2 separate regions of the Homo sapiens genome follow, and region 2 is linked to region 1. The links come from fine-mapping of genetic effects on gene expression. A gene starts in region 1. The other region holds a variant in brackets. All regions are shown on one strand. Distances are from middle to middle. Region 1 holds the start of STAC3 (SH3 and cysteine rich domain 3). Region 2 overlaps LRP1 (LDL receptor related protein 1).

Evidence for each region. PIP is the estimated chance that this variant, and not a neighbour inherited with it, causes the effect.
Region 2: its variant is fine-mapped to the expression of STAC3 in whole blood (TOPMed, PIP 0.98).

What each region holds. Positions count from the first base shown.
Region 1 is chr12:57,247,070-57,256,068 of GRCh38, reverse strand. STAC3 (SH3 and cysteine rich domain 3) reads left to right here and starts at 4,882. Exons shown (of 12, transcript NM_145064.3): 1 at 4,882-5,076; 2 at 6,432-6,498; 3 at 6,761-7,028; 4 at 7,266-7,363; 5 at 7,871-7,943. The coding sequence starts at 6,433. R3HDM2 (R3H domain containing 2) reads left to right here. Exons shown (of 24, transcript NM_001394031.1): 23 at 1-79; 24 at 956-2,305. The coding sequence ends at 1,296. RefSeq lists an enhancer at 7,112-7,171.
Region 2 is chr12:57,150,201-57,159,199 of GRCh38, reverse strand. LRP1 (LDL receptor related protein 1) reads right to left here. Exons shown (of 89, transcript NM_002332.3): 7 at 4,830-4,992; 8 at 4,499-4,721; 9 at 2,917-3,106; 10 at 2,280-2,423; 11 at 562-798. Among named protein-coding and RNA genes, the nearest start is that of LRP1-AS, 7.1 kb to the right of the region's middle. The variant A/C (reference allele first, on the strand shown) is at 4,123.

The sequences.
Region 1 (8,999 bases):
AGTGGACTGAAGCATGGAAACCGGGGCAAGAGACAAGCACTCAAATCTGCCTCCACTGACCTGGGGACAGCAGATGTTGGTGAGTCACGGGATGCTGAATCCCCAAGAGAAGGTGCCCACCCTTCCAGCGCTTAATTACCAGTCCAGCATGGGTGGGAAAAGCCAGCTTAGGATGGGGAGTGGAAGTGGGACCCTTTGTGCTCAAAAGCAAGCAGAAACTGGAGAAGTGAAGTATCTCAGTCCTCCCTACCAAGCCATCTCAGATTCTGAGGAAGATCATGGTAAAAAGTGGGAATAACACAATTATGGGAGTTGCCTCTTATTAACAAAGAGTTTTCTAATTAGTGTCCTGTCCCTAATCTACGACATCTACCTTTGGTAGTCCTAGACCCAGTTTAGGAGAAGATTGGTAGAGAATATGGGGGAGAAACTCTCGTCCTACAAGCCTCCCACTAGGTGAACAAGATCTGTCTTGGGATTTGGAGCAATTTCCTAAACAAGGAAAGGAAGGGAAACTTGACTTCCTGAGATGATAAGAAGGAAGAATCTATTTGAGCCAGCCTCTGAGTGGGAAGGGAACTATGGAACATATTTCAGATTGATACATTATTGTTAAAGAACATTAGCAAAAGCCACATTTTCTTCATAGCAGTAGCACCTTGTGAGAGAACTGAGGTATAGGTTCTTAGCTCAGAAACCCAGGATTCTGATTCCCTGTCCCTTCTTTCCTGTATCTCTGGGCTAGGAGAATAGAAAGGTTCATTTGTTTTTCTCCTAGTTGCCCTGATCAGAGCTGGGATGGTGGGGAGGGGAAGAAAGGGCTAAGAGAGAAAGGCCAGGCTTTTGAAGACATTGTATACAGACTTAGTCAGCTGGACACTTCTCTGCTGGGCTGCTGTCAAGTCCTTCCTGTCCTATTCCTCTCACAACCATGTCCTCTCTCCTCCCCTTCCAGTCCTGGGGCGGGTGCTGGAGGTGACAGATCTCCCTGAGGGCATCACCCGTACTGAGGCGGACAAACTCTTCACGCAGCTCGCCATGTCTGGCGCCAAGATCCAGTGGCTCAAGGATGCTCAGGGGCTGCCTGGAGGGGGTGGGGGGGACAACAGTGGGACTGCTGAGAATGGCCGCCACTCGGACCTCGCTGCCTTGTACACCATTGTGGCTGTGTTCCCCAGCCCCCTGGCTGCCCAAAATGCCTCCCTTCGTCTCAACAACTCCGTGAGTCGCTTCAAACTTCGAATGGCCAAAAAGAACTATGACCTGAGGATCCTGGAGCGAGCCAGCTCCCAATAAATGGAGGAGGGGAAAGGGACTGTCACAGAAGGAGCAAGGGCAGGGTGGAGGGGGTTGAAGGATCCTGACAGACCATGGACAGAGGCAGGAAGTAAGGAAACTGATGTTAAACTGGAACCTAAGACAGTGATGAAGATGGAAACACAGATACCTACACTGGCATTGGACTCCTTCTTGCTCCCCTGCCATGGGTCCTCTCTTTTTCCCTGGTTGACCCCCCTTGCATCACTCTTCTTCCCATCCTCTTCTTTTTTTTTTTTTTTTTTTTTTTGAGACGGAGTTTCGCTCTTGTCACCCCAGCTGGAGTGCAGTAGCACGATCTTGGCTAACTGCAACCTCCAGCTCCTGGGTTCAGGTGATTCTCCTGCCTCAGCCTCCCAAGTAGCTGGCACTACAGACACGCGCCACCATGCCCGGCTAATTTTTGTATTTTTAGTAGAGACGGAGTTTCACCATGTTGGCCAGGCTGGCCTCAAACTCCTGACCTCAGGTGATCCACCTGCCTTGGCCTTCCAGAGTGCTGGGATTACAGGCGTGAGCCACTGTGCCTGGCTTCCATCCTCTTCTATCATTTTTTTAAATCTCTTCTCCTATCATAAAATTAATTTCTCATTTTTTGGTCAGGTAGAATTGGGAAAGTCCCACACTGTCCTCCTATTACCTTAACATCCCAAGCTTCCTTTCCTTTTTTGGTCTTTATGAATATATTTATATGGACAGAATTAAGATAAACAAAATTGATTGCCCCATTCTCTCACTTCCCCATCTTGTCTTCCTAGACCCCACAGAGTTAAAACTTGGGATTCCCCTGGCCCCCCCAGAACACTTGTATATTGTTTGTTTGAGGTTCGTGCCGCAGTAACAGACACAGTATTTAATTGCACATACAGATGTTTGCTGGGTATATTCACTGTAAATTTTATTTAATCTGTTTTTTTGTTTGTTTGGGGGTTATTTGGGGGGAGGTTGGTTTTGTTTTTAAATATAAAAAAAAAAATCTGTCACTGGACATCAGTCACTGTTTCTCTGTTGCCGCCCTGGTATGGGTAAAGGGTTGGAGGCCCTGGGTAGGTATAGCCCTACAGCTGTTGGAGGTGTTTGTCGTGGGTTGGGATGGCTTTCTCTAGCATACGCACACTATTTTAACACCATTCCCTCTGTCTCATCCTCTTCCCTGTACACGGTTCTGATAGATGGCTAGATCTCTAATGGGACCATGGCTTTGGGCTCTCCCGGTTCTGCCACTGTGGTTCATCGAGCATATCACTTCTCAACTCTGGATCTGTGTCCAGATCAGTAAAATAAGAGACTTGGACTTAGTAGGTGACCTCTAGGTTTCCTTCCAGACTATTAATTCTGTGGTACTGTGTACTCATTTAGGGCCCTTGTAGTTGAGTTTTGAGATAGGGTCTTGCTCTGTCACCCAGGCTGGAGTGCAGTGGCAGATCTCAGCTGACTGCAGCCGCCTCCCGTGTTCAAGCGATTCTTGTGCCTCAGTCTCCCGAGTAGCTGGGATTACAGGCGCGATCTAGCATGCCTGGCTAATCTTTTTTTTTTTTTTTTTTGCTATTTTTGGCAGAGACAGGGTTTTACCATGTTGCCCAGGCTGGTCTTGAACTCCTGGGCTCAAGTGATCTCCCGCCTTGGCCTCCTAAAGTGCTGGGATTACAGGCATGAGCCACCACTCCCAGCCCAGCTCGTCTTCTGAAAACCCTTTAGGGATGGAGAACTTGGGCCTTTCTTTTTTTTTTTTTTTTGAGATGGAGTCTCGCCCTGTTGCCCAGGCTGGAGTGCAGTGGCGCGATATCTCGGCTCACTGCAACCTCCACCTCCCGAGTTCAAGCAGTTCTCCTGCCTCAGCCTCCTGAGTAGCTGTGCCCCATCGTGCCCAGCTAATTTTTGTATTTTTAGTTGACATGGGGTTTCACCATGTTGGCCAGGCTGGTCTCGAACTCCTGACCTTGTGATCCACCCGCCTCGGCCTTCCAAAGTGCTGTGATTACAGGCGTGAGCCACCGTGCCTGGCTGCCTTTCTTTAATCCTAAAGCTGGAGGATTGGGTTTTACCTGTCAGGGACAGAAGCAGATTTTTATTACAATGAAAGCTACAGCAACTGAACTCGCAGTGCCAAGATGCTGTATTATCCAAACATGCTCAGCAGTCCCTGTCCTATGTGGCTGAAAAAAGACGAAGAGCAGAAGTCATCTTGCCTGCAAGATGGAGCTTTTCCTTTAGAGCATCTCAAAGCAAGCCCTGTTGTTCTGCAGCCTGTCAGAGCAGGGCCATTAAAGAACCTGCAGAGTCAGAACCATCCTGCACCCCCTTTTCAAACTCCCCCCTTAAATAGAAAAAAGTAGTGGGTGAGAATGACAAAGCACGTTGCCCTGGAAATCTCTTGGGTCCAAGTAGCTGTATCCCTAACGACGATCCTACAGGAGCTTGCCTGACCCAGTCTCCAACACAGTCCTTTATTTCTTACAGATACAAGGAATAGAGCAGCACTGCATTGCCACCTCTAAATTGCTCTCCCCTGAGATGGGAGTATCTCCTCTTTCATCCATGTCACAGCCCAAAGAGTAGAAGGGTGCACCCCTGTGAGATGAGAATGGCATCTGTCTCTTTGATCCATCAGTTATATACTGAGGCATCAAAGGTGGGAGATGGAATCAGGGAATCAAAAGGGTTTAGGAAGTGTGAGGGTTGGCCATCCTACCTTTAAGAGTTTGCAGTTCTCATGAGGAAGGGGACATTACTTAGAAATGATTTAAAAAATTCCTTATGTGGCAGCTATATGCTTCTGTCCAGTGTTAACTGGCCCTTTTTAATAGCCCTGGTAATTCCCTTCAGTCTGAGGACAAAATTTTACAAGAAGGAGGGTGGGGAGATGTCTCTGGGAGCTGCTGGAGGGAATGAAGCAATACTACATATTCTTCACTTTCTTACAGGATAGCAAAGTACTCCTCCAACCACCTACAGATAAAAAGCAATCTAGCCATGCACGGTGGCTCACACCTGTAATCCTAGCACTTTGGGAGGCCAAGGCAGGCGGATCACCTGAGGTCAGGGGTTCGAGACCAGCCTGGCCAACATGGTGAAACCCCATCTGTACTAAAAATACAAAAATTACCTTGGCGTGGTGGTGGGCGCCTGTAATCCCAGCTACTTAGGAGGCTGAGGCAGGAGAATCGCTTGAACCTGGGAGGTTGCAGTGAGCCCGGATCGCTTCATTGCACTCCAGCCTGGGCAACAAGAGCAAGACTCTGTCTCAAAAAAAAAAAAAAAAAAGCCATCTAGTATGGCTGATAGGAGAGCTCTATGAGTTCAAATTAGTCTTTTTTTACCCTGTCTCAAAAAATAAATGAAAAATAAAAATAAACTCCCCTTAAATGTTAAATGAGCATGAACAGAAACTGTCCCTTCCTGAATTCAGCCATTATTCACCTGTTCGCCTTAGATGAAGAATCAAGGAACAGCAGCTCTAGGGGGTTGGGAGGAGTTAGGGTCCGGCCCTGCCCCAGACCTCTCAGTGTCCAATTTCTCTGTGTCAGCTGTGTTTCTCAGCTGTCCACTTTCCTCCAGCCCTGTCATTTCAGCCCTGACACCAAGGCAGGAGGCTAGGAGGTCTACAAATAGCGACTGGGTAGCTGGTGTGAACACAGGGGGTACTGGGGGGGCTTAGCCCCCAAGGAAGAGGACCAGTTTTTCCCCAGCACCACCATCAAGGCCTCGAGGCTCCCAGCTCCCTCTACAGCCTGTGGACTGACTTAGGGAATCCCGAACGTAAGTTACCTCTTCATCCTCTTGATTTCCACGACTGCTCACCCCAGCTGCCCTGATCTATAATCTACTCAGCTTCTTCATTTCTCTCCTTGTCTGTGAGTCTTTTGGGTTTTAGGCGTAAAATTATTATTCTACTCTAGGATGAGTTTGGATTGAAGCGGGGGGTGGGGGTGGGGGTGGGGTGAAGGGAATGAAGTAGTAAGGGAAGGAAAGGCTCATATTACCCTGAAAACTTAAAATAGCTGAGCCCTGAGGCAGGCTGGGACAGAACTAGGCACAGGGCCCCCAGGGCTCAAGAAAAAAGTAGGGGAGGACAAATGTCTCCAGTCCATCCTTCCTTGTGTGCACACGAGGACACACATTAAACCTCTTGAAGAGAGGAGATCTGGGAAGGTATGCATCACATCTCTGTTGCCCACAGATTTCCAGGAGAAACAAAGTACCTATAGGAAAATGACGTAAACCACGCAGCTTTGAACACTGTGTAAGGGCTGTAAACTATGGGGTCGCCCCTCAGGATGGAAGGATGAGTATCAGTTTGAGGAACTAATTGGGAAGCTCTTTAGTCTGTTGGGCTTTTTTTTTTTTTTTTTTTTTTTTTTTGAGACGAAGTCTTGCTCTGTCACCCAGGCTGGAGGGCAGTGGCACAATCCCGGCTCACTGCAACCTCCGCCTCCCGGGTTCAAGCGATTATCCTTCCTCAGCTTCCTGAGTGGATGGGATTACAGGCGTCCGCCACCACACCCGGCTAATTTTTATATATTTAGTAGAGATGGGGTTTCACCATGTTGGCCAGGCTAGTCTTGAACTCCTGATCTCTAGTGATCCGCCTGCCTCAGCCTCCCAAAGTGCTGGGATTACAGGCATGCACCACCACACCCGGCCATGTTAAGCTTTTTTCTAGACCTCCATGAAATCTGTTAATAAAACCTGCCAAAGGATCTGTATTTGGCCCAGTGCAGTGGCTCACGCCTGTCTCAACAATTTGGGAGGTTGAAACAGGAAGATTGCTTGAGCTAGTTCGGGACCAGCCTAGGCAACAAAGCAAGACCATGTCTCTACAAAAAATAAAAAAGTAGCCAGGTAGTGTGCACCTTGTGTTCCAGCTACTCAGGAAGCTGAGGTAGGGGGATCGCTTCAGGCTGGGAGGTCGAGGCTGCAGTGAGCCATGATCACGCCACTGCACTCCAGCCTGGGTGACAGAGTGAGACCCCATCTCAACAGTAACAACAGCAAAATCTCTCATCACATTTCTCCGAAAGCCTCCCCTTTGAGGACCACCCTACTGCAAGGGACAGAAAGGGAGAGAAGAATGAAAGGGATTAGATTTCATAGTGGGGTCCAACCTCTTGCAGGATGACAGAAAAGGAGGTGCTGGAGTCCCCTAAGCCCTCCTTCCCAGCAGAGACTCGGCAAAGTGGGGTGAGTCTGGGCCTCTGACCACTGGGTGTGGGGGGCTGGGAAGCCATTACAGCTGAAGAAGAGTGCTTAAATTGATCTCATTTGTGTGTGACTCATTTTTTGCTGGCCAGCACCTGCAGTCCCCAATACCAATACCCCCCTAATCCTGGGGTACATTCCTTGCCTGAAACTAGAAAACTGTCTAGTTTGCTCTAGCGCCCCCCTACTCTAGAGAGGGTGACAAGTCCTTTTAACATTGGGTTTTCTTCACTCCCTCCCTCAGCTACAGCGGCTAAAGCAGTTACTCAGGAAGGGTTCTACAGGGACAAAGGAGATGGAACTTCCCCCAGAGCCCCAGGCCAATGGGGAGGCAGTGGGAGCTGGGGGTGGGCCCATCTACTACATCTATGAGGAAGAGGAAGAGGAAGAAGAGGAGGAGGAGGAGCCACCCCCAGAACCTCCTAAGCTGGTCAACGATAAGCCCCACAAATTCAAAGATCACTTCTTCAAGAAGCCAAAGTTCTGTGATGTCTGTGCCCGGATGATTGTTCGTGAGTCATGAAGGGAAGTGAAGAGAGTATGATATTGAAGGCAGAGGTTTGGGGAGAGGGCATAGGAGAGGAGTATTTGTAGCAGATGGGCTGTGGCTAGAGTTGGTGTAAGGCAATGCTATTAGAGATTGAGCAAGTAGGGTCCCAGACAGAAAAGGAAACCTAAGAGTAGCAGCAGTGGTACAAAGGGAAAGGGCAATCTGGAACCTTATCTGAATTTTCTCCCCCTTTCCCAAGTCAACAACAAGTTTGGGCTTCGCTGTAAGAACTGCAAAACCAACATCCATGAACACTGTCAGTCCTATGTGGAAATGCAGAGATGCTTCGGCAAGATCGTGAGTAGGCTGTGGAGAGCAAGGAGGGGACATGGCCACGCGTGGTGGCTCACGCCTGTAATCCCAGCACTTTGGGAGGCTGAGGTGGGCGGATCACGAGGTCAGGAGATCGAGACCATCCTGGCTAACACAGTGAAACCCCGTCTCTAAATACAAAAAATTAGCCGGGCGTGGTGACAGGTGCCTGTAGTCCCAGCTACTCAGGAGGCTGAGGCAGGAGAATGGCGTAAACTCGGGAGGCGGAGCTTGCAGTGAGCCGAGATTGTGCCACTGCACTCCAGCCTGGGTGACAGAGCGAGACTCCGTCTCAAAAAAAAAAAAAAAAAAAGAGGGGACATGTCACCAGCCAGCTACCCCTTGCTGGTCTCTCCTCCATCCCATTCATTTCTCTGCTTTTTCTTTCTCAGCCCATCTCTTTTTCTGAGAAAGGGTGAGCACTCCTGGGAGAGATAGGCTTCTGGACCTTACTTTGCTACCTCTAATGCTTCCTCTCATCCCATCCTACAGCCACCTGGTTTCCATCGGGCCTATAGTTCCCCACTCTACAGCAACCAGCAGTACGCTTGTGTCAAAGATCTCTGTAAGTGCCCTTTATGGAACATGAGGGAATGGGCAAGCCTAGAGATGGTTTCATGCCATCTCTAGCTTTGGGAGCCAAATTCTGAAACAGAAACTTTCTGTTTCCCATAATTCTCCCTCAACCTCACATTTTTATATCCATTTGGATGCAGAGGCAATATCCCCATTTTACAGCAGAGGGAGATACGATTTAGTTGCAACTACATACAGTTAGCAAGAGGTAGAGCCAAGACTGGAATCTTCAGTTGCTAGCTTCAGAATCTGTGCTCTTTGTGTGCAAAATCATTTCTAAGCAAGAACAAGGATTCTAGATTGTCCTCATCCTTACTACAGAGTCATATCAGACTCGGGGCAAGACCCAAAGGCTGCAGGCACCCTGGGCAGGTTCATAATTTGGCAACCCAGGCCGGGCGCGGTGGCTCACGTTTGTAATCCCAGCACTTTGGGAGGCCGAGGCGGGTGGATCACGAGGTCAGGAGATCGAGACCACGGTGAAACCCCGTCTCTACTAAAAACACACAAAAATTAGCCGGGCGTGGTGGCAGGCGCCTGTAGTCCCAGCTACTCGGAGAGGCTGAGGCAGGAGAATGGCATGAACCCGGGAGGCGGAGCTTGCAGTGAGCCGAGATTGTGCCACTGTACTCCAGCCTGGGTGACAGAGCGAGACTCCGTCTCAAAAAAAAAAAAAAAAAAAAAAATAATAATAATAATAATAATAATAATTTGGCAACCCTTAAAAACATATTCATTGACAAATTTGCTCAACATTTATTTGGAGGAGAGGCTGAACTCTGTGAAGAGCATGGGTGAAAAAGAAGAACCTATTGGTGGCAGCACCTCAGCTTACACATGCCATTTAGCAGAACAAAAGCCAGCAGTTAAGGGCCCATTCTCCTTAGAAGGAGAATAGTGATTCTGCGCATGTCTCAGCTCCCAAGCAAGCAAAGTTGTGTTTCAAACATCATATAATGCTCTGCCTGGAAGGAGTTCTAATAAATACTTTCCTCCCTCACTTTACATCACCAGTGATGTTTTTAAAGTCCTTTATAGATTGGTG
Region 2 (8,999 bases), 97 kb after region 1:
CCCAAGTGCAGATTTGGGGCAGAACTCGTACAGCTCAGAATCCTTCACATAGACATTAAAAAGACAATGCACTGTGAACCTGCCCAAGCAGCTCAGAGGGAAGACCTGGATGCAACTCACAAAACACAATTTTCTCAGGACACATTAGCATGCAGTTTTTGGCGACTGCAAGGTCAGCTGCACAGACCCTGTGTGCGCACATACATGTGGGTGTGCCCTGTTTTGATCTGGCAGGCCTGTCTCCAATTCAAGACCTCAGTTGTCCCCTGGCTGTGTGCTGTGTGCAGCTCCAGGGCTCTAAGCCAATGCAGACAGACCCTGAGTTTTCCCAAGGGCTGGCAAGGACGGCCCATGCTGCCTAACCCATCCTAACCCTGCCTCTTTGGCTCAGCCAAGAAGGGGGTCACACAGGGGTCAATCTGTCTATCCCCTCATCTCCATGCCAACCAGTGCAGCCAGCCAGTCAGCAGGGGACCATCCTGCTGAGAGGGCACCGAGAAACAGATGCCTGGGCCCCAGCCCCCTTCCATCCCCATGGGCCACATCCCTAGGAGCCCATACCGTCCTTCAGGATGGTCTCCCGCTCAGTGCCATCAATCTTCTGGCGGCCAATGAGGTAGCTGGTGGTGTCGGCAAAGTAGATGAAGCCGGTCTCAGCGTGGAAGTCCAGGGCTCGGGGGTTCATGAGGTTTTCAATGGGGATCATGTGCTCATCCGGGACCTTGGCCCCCATATCCATGCCCCGGATGATGCCTGGCCGGCCCTTGCCATACACGAGGAACAGCTCATGCTCCGGCTCTAGAGCAGGCACAAGCCAGGGTACAGTCAGACACACACATGACCATCATCCCCACCCAGGGGCTGCGGCCAAGGGGCTGCAATGCCCTAGCTGTGATGGGTCAGGAGACGTTAGGGATGCGAGGCTCTGGGTCAGATGGACAGACCACGCACACGCTAACATACAGGACGATGGGTCCTGGCCGCAATACCCTGGGGTCTGACCTCTGCACTCCAAGGGTAGGAAATGAGGGAAGAATAGCAGGTTTTCAGCTAAGTGCCCACTGATCAGTCATGAAATCAGTGGTATAAAAGGAGTACCTTCAAAATATGTTGGAGTCACATCACTGTTTACCACTTCCTCTGCTGCCATCCTAGTGTAAACCACATCACTTCTTGCCCACTACACTGAAAGTCTTCTGGCTACTTCCCTACTGCCCATCCCCCACCCAGTAGCAGCGTGACTTTTATACAAATGTGAATCCAATCATGTCACTTCCATTCTCAAAAGTCACTATGAGCTTCCTATCCCAGATATAATAAAATCCAACCCCTGCCTCCTTCTCTGCCCTCACACCACTCAGCCCCGCTGGCCTTCGTGCTGTTCCTCTGGCTTGCCACACTCACACTGGCCTCAGGGCCTTTGCACTGTTGATTTCCTCTGCCGGACATGCTCCTCCCTCAGGGAGTTACATGGTTGCCCTCTTCATTTCACAGAGAGCTTGGCTCAAACACCACATCCTCAGAGAGGCCCTTGCTCTCCTCATTAACTCTATTCTCTGCTTTATTTATTCATTTATTTTTAATTTTTTGAGATGAAGTCTCGCTCTGTCATCCAGGCTGGAGTGTGGTAGCGCCATCTCAGCTCACTGCAACCTCCACCTCCCAGGTTCAAGTGATTCTCCTGTCTCAGCCTCCCCAATAGCTGGGATTATAGGCACGCACCATCACACCCAGCTAATTTTTGTATTTTCAGTAGAGACGGGGTTTCACCATGTTGGCCAGCCTGGTGTGGAACGCCTCACCTCAAGTGATCTGCCTGCCTCGGCCTCCCAAAGTGCTGAGATTACAGGCATAAGCCACCACGCCTGACTATTCTCTGTTTTATTTTCTTCATAACCACTTATTACCACCTAAAGTTACATTTATTTGTTTCCCCAACTAGACTATAAGCTCCATGAGGCCAGGGACAACATCTATCTCGTTCGCTGCTTAATCCTGATGACCAGAACAGTGCCAAACATGTAGTGAGTGCTCACTGCTCACTAGACACTTGCTGAATGAATCAGTTTAGTTTTCTGCAGAGTCCGGTGGGTGAGTGAGAAAAGCACTTTTTTCGAATATGGATTCAAGTCCCATCTCTGCCCTCACTAGCAGGTACACTCTGGGACACTTCCTTCATCTCCCTGCATGTCAGACAGAGGCAGCCGGGCTGTGGGGGACACCTGAGGAACCCTCCCGCAGCCTCCCAATGGGCACACACCCCCTTCCCTGTCACTCACTCTTGCATGACTTCCCGTCACTGCCCAGGCTGAAGCCGGAACGGCAGCGGCAGGTCCGCGCCTTGTGGCTGTTGGCCAGCAGGCAGATGTCAGAGCAGCCACCCGGCTTCCCATACTGGTCGTTTTCACAGGCATGGCTCCTCACTGGGGGCAGGGTGAAGAGCTGTTAGGACCCCTCAGAGCCCCTGTGCCAGGCCTTGAGAAGGCTTCCTGAATCTGACCACACCCCCTGCTGCTGTGGTCTTTGTGCTTGCTATCCCATTTTAGGATTTGGAAGCCACAGGGGTGGAAACCCTCTGCCCCCCAACAACCCAGCCTTCAAACTCTTGGAGTGGGGGCTTCAGTAGTCAGGGAAGAGAGTTCCAGGGTTGCCCATGGCCAGGTGCTACTGCTCCAGACTGGCAAGGGGAATGGGAGGGACAGAGTGGGATCTGGAGGCTGAGTGGGTGGATGGGGGCTGGCAGGGGAAGCTGAGGGGCCAGGGCAGGTAGCCCGAGTGGCTGGCTAGGAGAATCGGTCATGACATGAAAGAAGCCAGGGTCCCCACAGGAGGGCCCAGAGAGGGGCTGTGATCCCAAGGTCCCAGAGCCATCATGGGGTAAAGCCAGCTTTGGAGGGGCCATGGAGCCCTGCTCACCTCGGGGCTGACGCCTCTGGTGGTAGATGTGGAGGGCACCACCCTTGTCCACCCGGGTGACAACCTGGTACTCGGTGCTGTTAAAGCGGTTCACACGGATCACACTCGTCTTCTGCTGGGCATTGGCATTGTCCGAGTTGGTGGCATAGAGATAATTCTCAAACACAGTCAGGCCGTACAGGTGCTCAATCTGAGACGGGCAGGCAAGAATGGACAGCATGAGATGACAGGGGTTCCTCCCTCTGTCCTGGAGATCCCCTCAGCTTCCTCCAGACTTCATGACCTGCATTCCCCAATTCATCCTGTAGTTTTTAATTTTTATTTATTTATTTTGAGACGGGACCTCACTCTGTCACCCAGGCTGAAGTGCAATGGCACGATCACGGCTCACTGCAGTCTCCACCTCCTGGGCTTAAGCGGCCCTCCTGCTTCAGCCTCCTGAGTAGTTGGGACTACAGGAACATACCACCACACCTGGCTAATTAAAACAAATTTTGTGTAGAGATGGGGTTTCCCTATGTTGCTCAGGCTGGTCTCGACCTCCGAGGCTCAAGCACTTCTCCTGCCTCAGCCTCCCAAAGTGCTGGGATTACAGGTGTGGGCTACCGTGCCTGGCCCCACCATTTTTTAACTCAATGCTTTACTCCTGTCTCCTCTGGCTGGACTAACCTATTCTGAAGATTTTTGCTTACCAAGATCCCACTCATCCTCTACAGAGCATGTCTTTAAAGAATTTATGGAATCTTCTAACCAGAGATGTTTTCTCCTTCTATACATCCTCCGTGACACTGCTATCTATCCGTGTCTGGCACAGTGATTTGTGGACTTATCTCACCCACTCTACTCAGACCCCTTGAGGGCAGAAACCCTGTCCTTCACAGAATTAGGCACTCGTTAGACACTTTAGTGATTTTAGACTGAATTAGAGATGGGCTCTAAACTCTGTCCACAGAGGACATTCTTAGTCTGTTATGAGGGCTAAGAGGACACACTTGCCCCAAGCAAGTCCTGTAACACCCCTGACTACCCACATAGCTTATCTGCGGTGGCCAACTGTCCTAGTTTGCCTAAGACAAAGGTAAGGGTTTGCTGGCTTACCAGACTTTCAGGGCTAAAACTGGGACAGTCCTAGGCAAACTGGGCTGGTTGCTCACACTAATTATCCCACAATGGAGATGCCACCTCTGAGCCAGCAAGGCTTCTAGA[A/C]CAAGTTCCAGTGCTATCACCCGGCTTTGTAAACACAGGCAAATCACCTAACCTCTTTGATCCTGCTTTTTCATCTGCTGAAAGGGAACTGAACCACCTCCCTGTTCATCAGCTAGGGGTTATTATAAGGGTCAAATGAGAAACAGGAAGTAAACAGAAGTGGTGTTTCTAAAATGACTGTTCCCATCACAGTGGAACCCGTATCTTGTCCTTTCTCTGCAGTATTCAAGCCCACCCCACTCCCACTAGAGGCCTGGGGCATCCACGCTCTTTACCAGGAGACTCAGAGAACGGTTCCCCTACAGAGGCTTCCCCCCTCACCAGAAGGCCCTGGATCATGGTTCCCCCACAAAACCTCAGACAGTAGCTCCCTCACCAGGATGCCCTGGATGATGGTCTGGCGGCCCTTGCCCTCATAGTCCACCACTTCAATATAGTCCAGATAGGCATCTGCCCAGTAGACAAGGCGGCTGACCAGGTCCAGCGTGATGCCATGAGGAAACACAATCTTGCTGTCGACGAGCTTGGTGCGGTTCTGCCCATCCATGTCACAGCGTTCCACCTTTGGGATCTGCCCATAGTCAGTGAAAAACACCTTCCTGTGGGAAGATGCATGTTAAATGGGGTCTGGACATTGGGCACCCTCCTTACCACTGTAGCCTCAGCCTCCCACCTTCCAGGGCCAGAACCCCGCCTGCCACTCTCACCCCATGGCAGGGTCCAGGGCAATGCCCTTGGGGTTGTAGAGTTCCAGGTCTAGCAATGTGACACATGTGTCCCCATTTCTGTTGCAGACAAAGATCCTATCATCGATGTCATCCACAAAGTAGAAGTTGCCTGTCAGCCAGTCGATGGCCATCTGTTCCACGTCTGGAGAGTACGAATGAAAGAGCCATGGGGTGGGGTAGGCCCTCTTGCAGAGATGCCCACCCTTTGCTGGTGAGAACCCACACCTGGAAGCCCACCTTCTCTGGACGCCCTCCCACCCAACACCCCCATGCTTAGCTCAGAGTGGATATACAGGAGGGCTTGCGTAAATGCTGGCTGGCTGGTTGACTGACAGACTTCCCAATTCTAGCCCATCCTTGAAAAGGGACCATCTTCTTGGGGCACCAAAAGGTAGAGAGCACAGGTCCACTAGCTCAGTCCAGTTTTTTTTTTTTTTTAACTTTGCTTTTACTTGGGATAAGAGCACTGAGGCTACCAAAACATTACACATCTTTGCTTTTCACTGGACTTTTATCTACCATCTACAGTAAATCTAGTTATCTCATGCTAACCAGAAGCACTGACTGGAAGCTGGACATATGGCATAAATTTTTAAAGTGGAAAAGCAGGGTACACGCTAATAAACCCAGTTTGGGAGAAAAGTATTTCAAAATATGAACTCTACAGAGATGCCAAAGGGAAGATCCATGGGGGCAAAAGGTTGGGCACCAGTGACATGGGCCAAACTTCCTCTACTCAGCCCCAGTCCCCTGTTCCTGCAATGTCCTTATTGCTCAATGTCCTCATGTCCTGGGGAGGGTCAGAAGAGGTGGGGAATAAGTCATAGGGCTGGAGGAGAGAGAGTCTAGGAGGAGGGCCATGAAAGAATCCTCAGGGCAAACTGAGGCATGGCTCAGAAAGAGATGGGGCTTAAGGATGATGGGAGTGGGGGAAGGAGATGGAGCCCAGCTGCCTAGACTCAGTTTCAGGCATGGTTCTGGAGGAGATGGAAGAAGCCAAGAAGAGCCAAAGGAAAGAGAGGCAGGGCAAGGGTGGCCGGAAGTCAAGGAGGCAGGAAGTCTGGGGACAGGGACACATGCTGGCCTCCTCTGGGCTCCTCCTCTCCAGGACCACTGGCTTCCTTCCATCTACTCACTACCCCCTTCAACTACCACCATCAGAGATGGTGCCTCTTGCAAACTGGGAAACTCCTAAGGCAGTGACTTTCTGGGACCCCTGCCTGGAACTCCATCTCCAACAGTTTCCCCAACAAGTAAAGAAATCTTTGGGCTACCTGCTTTGGGCTGAAACTCATCCTCCATTACCCATACTCAACCCAGTAGGGATTCTTCTGCCCCCACACAGCTACAGGTATAATGACTTGCTGTTCTGCTTGACCCCTCCCTAATTCCCCCTCCTCCCCACAGGGATTCAGGGGCTGCTCCCTAACAGTGGGTGAGGGTGGGGTGGGGGCAAAAAGAACAGGAACGCCGCTCTCAAGGAACTTGGCTGGGCCCTGACACTGACTCAGAGTCACAGGACAGGAAGGGAAGGAGCCAACTGAGGGCTTCATCAAACTAGTTTCTTCTTCAGGTCCTCTCTGCTAAATCCCATCCCAATGCCTGGAGAACAAGGCCACAGAGACGAGGTATTACCCCCGTAAGTATTCATGCATCCCCAAGCCCAGCCACTCTTTCCTCTGGGCCCCCAGTACTGTCCCATCCTCACAAGATTGGAGAGAGGGGGAAGAGTAGCTTGAGGAGGCCAAGGCCCTGTAGGAAGAGGGCCTAGTGCAGGGGTAAGGCAACCAAATTCTTTGCCCCACACGCTGTAACCACAGAGAAAACAGATTCAAATGAATGCTGCTGGGCTGCCTCCAAAGGAAATCGAAGTCTCAAAGCAGGGACCTGCCTGCATCCCCTGGCAGCCAGCAGGGTGGCTGGAAGTCAAACAGGGCTGCGTGCCCTTTACTTGGTGGGCACGGCAGGGGTCTGGGGGCTGCTGGCATGTGTATGAACTTCATCAGTGAAAGCTGTTTTCCCAGCACCAGCTGGCGCAGCTACGGCCGGCCTTCTCTCCGACTTCCTGAGGCTTCCCTGAGTCACTGCCCAGCCCTAGGGCTGGCAATACCCTGCCCCTGCTCCCCCTATCCACCCTTCTCTTGGCAAGAGAGAGAAGGAAGAAACCTGCAGAGATCTGATGCCGCTATCCCAGGTGCAGCTCCACAATCAGCCCCCCCAGCCTCAGGATGTGGCCTGGATTCCCTCCCAATTCCGGGAAGGAAGGCAGAGAGATCATCCCTGCTCTCAGATATTTACCCTTGGCCGGTCTCCCTTCCACCTCCCCAAAGGCCAGGCAGGGCCCCACTCAGCAGGCCGGTGAGGAGTTGGCAAGAACTGGAGTCCTCGGCCTGCCTGGCCTCCCCTTTGGTATTTTTGCAGCTGGAGACTATTAGTTGCAAGCAAAAATCCTTTGTTATCCAACCCCCTGCACCACATTATTTTTCTCTCTCCTAAAGTTCAGATTCCTCTGCCTGCCCCACCACACACACACGCACATACGCACGTATGCACACACAAATGCACGCACAATCACACACACACACATACACTTGGCCACCACTCCAAGGCCAGTGTAGAGAGATGGGCTCAAAGGGAGAGGAGGAACCTTGCCTCCAGGGCTGCCCTATAGGCAGTATCTGGGCCACCCCTCTCTGTCTTATGAATTGGGGTCCAGGTGGAGTCCTGGGCTTCAGCCCAGAGATCCTGAGCATTCTGGCTCCACCAACCCTGAGGGGAGCCGTCCCCTTGTCGCCCAGCCTTCTAAGGGCCAACCACCTGAGCGCACCTTCTGAAGAGGCTCTGGCCAAAGGCCGAAAATCCTGAGGACAGGAGAATCTCAAATAAACCAAAGGGGAGAGAGGGAGGCTGTGTTGTGGAAGGAGTTGGGGGTGGTCTAGGGGCAGAGGGGCAGGGGATTCCAGCATGAAGAGGGAGGCTAGGAAGCAGGGAAGAGGTGCAGGAGTCAGACGAGAGACCACAGCTGCCCATTATGGCACAGAGGACTTTCAGTTCCAGGCCCCAGAATAGACCTGGTGTCCTGGCACCCCATCCCACTGCTCAGCATCTGCACTCACTACAACTCCAGCTTTTCTCAACTTCTCCATCATTCCCATTGTTCAAGAGGCATTTCCATACATGGTGGCTGCTTTCCCAAACACATGGGACCCACCCCATGCCCAAAAAGACTCTAGCTTCAGCTGCAGGATTCTAGTCACCTGCTCTAAAATAAGGAAATCGGAAGGAAGGAAGAAGCCTTTATGTCCTGAGAAAATGTCACCCAACACATCTACACACCCAAGAGTGTATACACATCCAAAGAGGTCCCTGGACCTCTATCCACATCCCCAGGGAGCACACTAGATTCTGGCCCTTGTTCCAGGAACCTCCCCACCTCTCCTCATATCATTCTGCTCTGCCCTGGGTCCAACTGGGCCCTAGACACTGACAGCCTGAGTTTGAATTCTGGTTCTGTCACCTTCCAACTGAGGCTATGAGCAAGTTACTTAATGCCTCTGAGTCTCTGTTTCCTCATTTGTAAAACTGGATGGTACACTAACTGCACTTAGCATGAGGCCTGGTGCATGATAAACACTCCCCACATGGGGGCTGCGGTTCCCACCATGTCCTCCCCTCCCTGAACCCATCCTTTCCCACCTTTTCCACCAAGTCGCCCTCTGTGCCTCCAGCCAGAGCCCTGTGGCCTCCTGACTCTAGGTGGGCCCTCCAGGTGGGCCATTTGGGGCTAACACCTACTACTCGTCAAGACTCGGCTCAGGCTCCCAGAAGGAAGCTTGCCCTATTAGAAGGAAGTTTTCAAGGCCAGGCTCAGTGGCTCACGCCTGTAATCCCAGCACTCTGGGAGGCTGAAGCAGGTGGATCATGAGGCCAGGAGATCGAGACCATCCTGGCTAACATGGTAAAACTCTGTCTCTACTAAAAACACAAAAAATTAGCCAGGCGTGGTGGCGGGCACCTGTAGTCCTAGCTACTCGGGAGCCTGAGGCAGAAGAATGGCGTGAACCCGGGAGGCAGAGCTTGCAGTGAGCCAAGATTGCATCACTGCACTCCAGCCTGGGCGACAGAGTGAGACTCCATCTCAAAAAAAAA